Linked DNA regions of Homo sapiens: all the other regions are linked to region 1. The links come from fine-mapping of genetic effects on gene expression. A gene starts in region 1. Each other region holds a variant in brackets. All regions are shown on one strand. Distances are from middle to middle.

Region 1 (2,853 bases):
AGAGGGGCATAATATGTTAGTATCTTAAGAGTGTACAAGCAAATCATGACTTTATTTAGGTTGCCTACTTTAGGTCATCCTAACATGAACAGCAGTTTAGAAAAGAAAAATCCCCTCTCAGCATTCTCAGGGTGACAATGAGGGTGGGGATAATGGCAGATATCTCCCAAAAGTTCAGCGTGGGCCAAAACCCAAAAAATCATATTCCACGATGTGCAAAAGGTTTCTTTCAAACCATGACTAATAATTTAAACAAATACATGTTTACACCAAATAATCAACTAAACAAAGTCCTTGTTCATAGGAAAACATGACATTAAGCCGAATGGTTTCAAAGACAATTCTTGAAAATTTTACCTATTTCCCTTTTGGTCGGCACCCGTGACCTGAAAAGCCTTGGCTAGTAGTTCCGATTAGTGTCAGATCCTCATAATGTGACATTTTCAGGCGTCAAATTACAGTAAAACTACTAGGGCAAGAACAAGAGCCAAAAGCAACAGGGAAGATGTCCATTTTCCATTTACACCCCCCCCCCAATTTACCACTTAAGAAAAACGGCACGTTTTTATATTAGAAAAGGGCCGCATCCTTCCAGATCTAGCGCAGCCTTAAGTCCGTGATTTGAGGAACCTGCCGCTTCCAAAATACAGGCTGAGACGTCCTCCCCATGAAGTAGTTTTGCGCTCTTGCACCACCTCCTTTGTCTACGCTGTCCCTGCAAACTCCTAGCTCAATGCCCTCCAGCAAACGAGCTGCCTGAACGCAAAGATGACCGTTCCAAGTCTTTTTTAAAAGAAGGGAAAAACCCAGTCACGCTCCTGGAGCCTGGTTCCCACGGGAGCAGGCCGGGCTGTCCACGACGGAAGCCTCGACCCTGGCTGGGGCTGTCGGCCGGGCAGCGCGGGAGAGCCAGGGCCAGAGCCGGGGCCGGGAACCCTAGTCCCGCCGCCTACGCGGGATGCAGCGACCACCGCCCGCCGCCCCCGGGCCGGCACTCACCTCCGTGGAGGGGCAGCGGCGCCAGCACCTGGCCGCGGACCTCGGCCTTGGGGGAGTCAAGCCCGTAGCGCCCGCGGTCGATGCGAAACGTGAGCGGGGCGCCGCGGCCGGGCTCCTGCACCGTCACGTTGATGAGCGCCGTGTAGTACTCCTGGCTCGCGTTGTCTGCCCGTGCCGGCCACAGGCTGCAGGTCAGCAGGGCGAGCGCGGCGAGCCGGGCAGGGCCCGCCCGCCCCGCGCAGCTCATCGTCCCTCCGGCAGCCGCCGCTGCTCGCGGACCGGGCTCCGGGGCCGGCGCCTAGAGGCGGGGCGGGCGCGGCCCGGGCGGCGGCGGGAGCGCGCGCGCGCGGCCTGCGCGGGGCCGAGCCCGAGCGCGGCCCTCCTGGACGCCGCGGCCCCGCCGCTCGCCGCCCTCACGTCCACTGCCCGCCTGTGGGGACGCGCCCATGGGCCCTCGGCGAGGGCGGCGTCTCAGGTCGCACGCGGGCGTCTCTTCGGGGTCCCAGGAGGGTTGTAGAAGCGTGCCCCCTCCATCCCCCCGGGTCGGTCCCACCGAATGGGAGGCGCCTCGCAAGGACGCGGCGGGGGAGGGGAAGGGCGGCACGGGAGGAAGCGCCCCGAGGAGGGTCAGCGGAACACAAAGTCCCTCTCGCGCGGCTGCCGCCTGAGGCGCGTGTCCGCCGCCGCCCCGCCCCCCCGCTGGTCTAGCGGCAACGCGCAGGCCTAAGGCGCAGTCCCGCCCCGAGCGCATGCGTGCCAGGGCCTGTCCGCTCCCGCCCGCCTGCACGAGGGCCCGGGCAGCCGGGTCAGCCGCTGGTGCTGGTTGTTTCTCTGTCAGGCGTGATAGCCGCAGGGCGTGGAGCCCGGGAGATTTGCGAGGACGTATGGAAATGTGTGAGAACAGACTACAAAGGAAAAAAAGCCATAACTTTAAAAGAAATGTTTAAAATTAAATGTCATGAGATTTAACATTCACGTCATGCGGTTGACATCATGGATGGGGGATGTCTCTGGCCCGGACCTGCAGGGACACGAGTGGTTGGGAAAGACCTCTAGGGTAGCCGTCCCTAACCATTTTGGCACTGGGGGACGGGTTTCCAGGAAGAGAGTTTTTCCAGGGACTGAGGGAGTTGAAGTGGTTTCCGGATGAGGCTGCTCCACCTCAGATCATCAGGCGTTAGATTCTCGTAAGAAGTGGGCAACCTAGGTCCCAAGCATGCGCAGTTCACAGCCGGGTTCACGTTGCTATGAGAGTCTAATGCCGCCCTGATCTGACAGGAGGCGGAGCTCAGGCGGTGATGCTCACTCACCTCCTGCTCGCTTACTGGTTCCTCGAAGGCCCTGGGCCGGTACAGGTCCGCGGCCGGGCGGTTGGGGAGCCCCTGCTCTAGTGACTAGGTGAACTACTCCAGGGGCCCCCGGACCAGAGGGTTGCAGTGGGAACCCCCCCTCCACCTTCCGAAACGCGCGCGCGCGCACACACACACGACTCTCATTTTCTCTCTCCATGGCGTTTAAAAGATACACATCGCTATAAAGTATCAGCTAAAAGGAAGAATGGGGCAGTGCAGCCGAATTCAGGAACTTACAGGATCTTTGTGGGGAGGCGGAGGGGGAAAGTTTGGCGTCTTCTGACCAGCCAGGGTTGAGTCTCCTGTCTCCTACTGCGGGAAGTGGGTGGAGTCAGCTTTGCACAACCAAATGTTCTGAAAATCCGGAAAAGAGGTGGCTCCCCAAAAAGAAATTTGAGGCACTGTTTCCAGGAAAGGGTACGGATGCAGTGCAGGCTAAAACTTAAGATGCCCACCACTGGCCAGGCGCGGTGGCTCACGCCCGTAATCGCAGCACTTTGGG
Region 2 (2,500 bases), 47 kb before region 1:
TGGTGTCAAAAGTTATCATATGGCAGGGGGAAAAGAGTTAACTTCACAGTGGAGAACCTGACAGACACTACCTCAGCCAGGTGACCAAAGTCAACATCACTGGTGATACTTCACACTGATAGCACATAAACTTGGTATGACAGGATGCATGCTAATGGTACTTTACAAATCCCTGTGGTCTTCCTCCCAAAAACCCATATCCCTAGCCTAATTATAAGAAAACTATCAAACATGTCCCAGTTGAAGGACATTCTACAACATGCTGGGCCAGCAGTCCTCAAAGCTGTCAAGGTCATCAAAAACAAGGAAAGTCTAAAAAAGTATCACAGCCAAGAGAAAACTAATGGATCATGATGACTAAATGTAATGTGGTGTCCTGGGTGGGATCCTAGAACAGAAAAAAAACTAGGTGAAAACTAAGGAAATATGAATAAAGTAATAGACTTTGGTTAATAATTATGTACCAACATTAGTTCCCTGTGGTACAACAAATTAACATGTCACATGGTACCTAACAGGAAACTGGGTGCAGGGTTTGCAGACATTCTTTGTACTATCTTCCCAATTTTTCCATAAATGTAAAACAGTTCTAAAAAGTAAAGTTTTTTTTTAAAGACTCATTATATAAAAGGGAACAACTTCTCATCAGAAAAAAACGTAAGCCAGAAAACAACAAACAACACCTTTGAAGTGCTGAAAGGAAAATTCTGTCAACACAAAAATTTATACCTGTCTTTGAAAAATGATGGCCAAAAAAAGACACTTTCGGATAAATAAATGTTGAGAGAATTCATCATCAGGAGATCTGTGCTGCATGAAATGATTTAAAAAAAGGGAAATGACACCAAACGGAAACTTGGAAATTCAGAAAGAAATAAAGAACAGCAGAACTGTTAGTATGTAGGCAAACATAAAAGCCTACCGTTTTTTCATGAGTTTTGCCATTCCCACTCCCTTCACGAATGAGGGGTCCCTTTTCATTCTTCCTCTAAACGCTCCTCAAACTTAAGCATCTGACAGTGGGTCTCAACAGGGGCAGTAAAGCTCTCCTGGGGGTGTCTGGAAGCCCTGTGGGAGGGGTCTCCATGCTGTCGCAGGCGCAGAGGTGTGCCACCAGCACTTAGCAGGTCCACA[C/G]CTGGGAGGTGAAACACTCTGTAATACAAAAGACAGACCTGCAGAGCAAAAGGACTGTCCCAAAATACCCCTGCCTTGTCCTCCACTTCCATCCTGAATCGAGAAGCACTGTAAGCATCAATGCGGGGTAGAGATCCTCACCCAGACCTCTAACACCTATAGCCTAAGGCTGCATGATCCTCCTTAGCAGCTGTGCCAGTGAGACCAACTCTTGAGATCCTAACTCCAAGGTCAGGTCCATCATCATATGAACTTCTATCAGTTAAGAACATCCTCCGTCCTGGAACCTAGGAAACTGATTTCTAAAACAGTATTTCAAACCCATGTAGATCCTTTATATGATTTTACCTTCCTCCTCTTCTGCTGCCAGTGAGGAAAGAGAAGCACAGAAAAGACAAAAAAGTAAATCAAGTGACAACTTCAAACAACCCACTTGGGACACGGAGACTGCAAGGAAGGCTAGAGGACAGTCTCATGTATCTGCTGGTGAAGGCACTCTCCAGTTCCACTTCAGATTTAAAGAAAAAAGAAAATTAAGAGCTTATGGAAGTTTTAAAATGGAACCATTGCATTTATTTTATTAAAGGCTATTTTTATTTTTTTAAAGCTACTGCTTAAGTGTTTCAGTTTTAGATTTTGATAATTATGAATTTTTTTTAAAAAAATGTATGAACCAGATGGAAGATACAGTAGAAGCATGTGCAAACTCAGGCAAAAATATAAATGCAATTTAAACCCTTACTTCCTGCCACAGCAGTACACTTCAATTCCAAGCTCCATCTTTTCTGAGGTAGTTAAATCCATATTCAATTAGAAGCTAAAAAACTTTAAACGGTAAAACAATAGTATACTTATATTACTCATTTTCTTGATAGGCATTTAGAATAAAGAAAATAGATTTACGTTAAGTGGCCCAAATTACTGATACGTAAAGGTATTCTACAATGTGTTTGTGATTTCTTTTTACTTGTTTTCATAAAGTATTTTTTGTATTCACAGTGAATTTTCTATATTTTACAAAGTGTGACATTTTTCTATTCAATGCTAGATAATAAATATAGAGCTAAATACGTTTTTAAGAGAATATGATGGAAAAAAGGTGAAGAGCCATTCAACTAATTTTGTTCAACCATCCAAAAAAAAAAAAGAAAAACCCAGTAAGAAGCATCTGATATTGCTGATTGATAAAAAGATTAAAAAGCAACATTATTATTTGGTTACATGTTTATCTAAATTACCTCATCTTCCTTTCAACAATGGAAAGAATGTCCACAAAATTCTTACAGACATACAGATAAAACTACAGCTAATTCTATCAGACAGTGATTTAACACAACTTAAGATGATTAAACAATAACAGTAAAGT
Region 3 (2,500 bases), 87 kb before region 1:
GGTTACAAAGACTTCCCCGTTTTCTCTTCTAGAAATTTTATAGTTTCGTACTTTGTATTTAGGGTTCTGACTCATTTTGTGTATTCTGTCAGGTACAGATGAACTTTTTTTTTTTTTTTTTTTTGCATATGGACATACAATTGTTCTAGAATCATTTGTTGAAAAGGTTGTCCATTCTCCACAGAATTACCTTTCTAAATCTGTCAAAAACCAGTTGTCCATAAATATGTGGGTCTATGTGCGGACACTATTGTACCATGCATCTATTTGTTTACCATTAAGGAAATACAATCCTGTCCTGATTTCTGAGGCTTTGTAATAGATCTGAAATTAGGTGGTGTTAACCATCCCACATTTCCTTTCTATTCTAACATCCTTGTGGTTTTTCTTGATATTTTGCATTCCCATATGAACTTTAGGATCAGTTTGTCCATCTCTATGATAAAAGACATCAGGGATTTACAATGAGATTGTGCTGAATGTATACATCCACTTGGGGAGAACTGGCATCTTAACAACATTAAGTCTTCCACTGAACACTGTGTATGTGTCTCTCCACCTACTTAGTTCTTGATTAATTTCCTCAGCAATAGTTAGTTTTCACTACATAGGGCATATTGCATATTTTGTCAGATTTATTGTTAAGAATTTCCTATTTGTTGATGCTATGGAAAATGGGATTTCTTAAAATTTAACTTTCTTAGAGATAGGGTCTTGTTATGTTGCCCAGGCTGGACTCAAACTCCTGGGTTCAAATAATCTTCCTACCTCAGCCTCACAAGTAGCTGGAACTACAGGTGTGCACCATCTGCTTGATGAAAATGCATTTTTTAAAACCAATTCAATTATTCATTACTCATATATAGAAATAAAATTAATTCTTTCATATTGATCTTGTATCATGGAACCTTGTTAAATCTACTGTTGGTCTTTTTCATAGATTCCAACATATCTTCTACACGAAATTTCTACAGAAAATAATGTTGTCTGTAAATGAAGACAGCTTACTTCTCCATTTCCACAATGGATGTCTTTTACGTCTTTTCCTTTTTACTTACTGTGCTGGCTAGAATCTAAAGAACAACGCAGAAACAGAAGTGATCAGAGGACACATTCTTCTCTTGTTCCTAATGTTAGAAAAAAGAATTTAGTCGTTCACCATTAAATATAATGGTGGCTGTCAGTTTTTCATAGATGCCCTAATAGTTTGAGGAAAGTTTAAAAATCAGGAATCGATGTTGGACTTC[G/A]GCAAATATCTTTTCTCCATCTATTGAGATCATACAGTTTTAGCTTTTTTGGCCTGCTAATATGGTAATAATACATTAATTTTTGAATGTTAAATGAAACTTATATTCCTGGAGTAAACATCACCTGGTCATGATGAATTTATATATATTGTTAAATATAATTTGCTAAATTTTTTAGAATTTGTGCATCTATGTTCAAGAGGGGTCCTGGTCTGTAGTTTTGTTTTGTAGTAGTTCTGTCTAGTTTTGGTATTAGGAATGATACTGGTGCCATACAATGAAATTGGAGGTATTCCTGCCTTTTCCATATAAGTTAAGCATTTGAAATTAAAATCTGAAATGCTCCTAAGTATGAAACATTTCCAGTGCCAACATGAAACTCAATGGAAATGCTCACTAGAGCATTTTGCATTTCAGAATTTTGGATTTGGTATGCTCAAACGGTAAGTATAATGCAAATATTCCAGAATCTGAAAAATTTCTGGTCCAAAGCATTTTGGATAAAGGGTACTCAACCTATAGTTTGTTTGATATTGTTATCATAGCTGCCCCTTGAACAACATGGAAACACCCATTTCCATCAAGTCATCTCCTATTAATTTAATTACTCTGGTGTAGTATCTATTTGCTCTTGAATTTCTTCAACATCCTCATCTTGAAACCCTTTACCCCCTAACTTTTTTTTTTTTTTTTTTTTTTGCCATATCCACAATCTGTTTCATGATTTCCTTGACTGGCTCTATCATAAATCCTGTGAAATCATGTACTACGTCTGGACACAGTTTTCTCCCATAGAAATCTTTTGTTTAGACTTTCATGGCATTTCCTATAATAATAATGACATCTTCAACAGTGCCATCTTTCCAGACTTTTGTGATGTTTTATCTGGATTCTATTCTACAGCATTAAATGCTTTACATAGCATACTGTGCATACTAAGCCGTAAGGGTCCTTAGGACCCCCTGCTCTAGAGGTTGAATTAGAGGCATGTCTGGGGTCAAGAAGGCCACTCTGAAGCCTTCAGTATTGAATTCATGGGGTTCTGGGTGGCCAGGGGCATTATCCAATATCAAAAAAACGTTAAAAGGCAGTCCTACCCTGGCAAGGTACTTCCTAATTTCAGGGACAAAGCACTGATAAAACCAATTCAGAGGGTTCCCACTATTCGGTCCTCCCTGTTTTGCAATTAAAAACCGGCAGATGGTATTTATAATTTCCCTTCCAGGCTGGTGTTTAGTAGCTTTATCAATAAG

Which allele goes with the higher level. Positions count from the first base shown, and alleles are read on the strand shown. Sizes are in standard deviations (SD) of each study's normalised expression. Not every link is listed here.
For the expression in sun-exposed skin of the gene that starts at base 1,303 in region 1, allele G in region 3 goes with a higher level than allele A (small effect, 0.33 SD a copy in GTEx).

What was found.
Region 2: its variant is fine-mapped to the expression of RNF130 in whole blood (INTERVAL, PIP above 0.99).
Region 3: its variant is fine-mapped to the expression of RNF130 in sun-exposed skin (GTEx, PIP 0.91).

The regions. Positions count from the first base shown.
Region 1 is chr5:180,070,457-180,073,309 of GRCh38, forward strand. RNF130 (ring finger protein 130) reads right to left here and starts at 1,303. Exons shown (of 9, transcript NM_018434.6): 1 at 1,000-1,303. The coding sequence starts at 1,246. RefSeq lists an enhancer at 977-1,684 and a silencer at 1,574-1,653.
Region 2 is chr5:180,023,849-180,026,348 of GRCh38, forward strand. The region is part of intron 2 of RNF130 (ring finger protein 130); the gene reads right to left. Among named protein-coding and RNA genes, the nearest start is that of MIR340, 9.7 kb to the left of the region's middle. The variant C/G (reference allele first, on the strand shown) is at 1,135.
Region 3 is chr5:179,983,230-179,985,729 of GRCh38, forward strand. The region is part of intron 3 of RNF130 (ring finger protein 130); the gene reads right to left. Among named protein-coding and RNA genes, the nearest start is that of MIR340, 31 kb to the right of the region's middle. The variant G/A (reference allele first, on the strand shown) is at 1,248.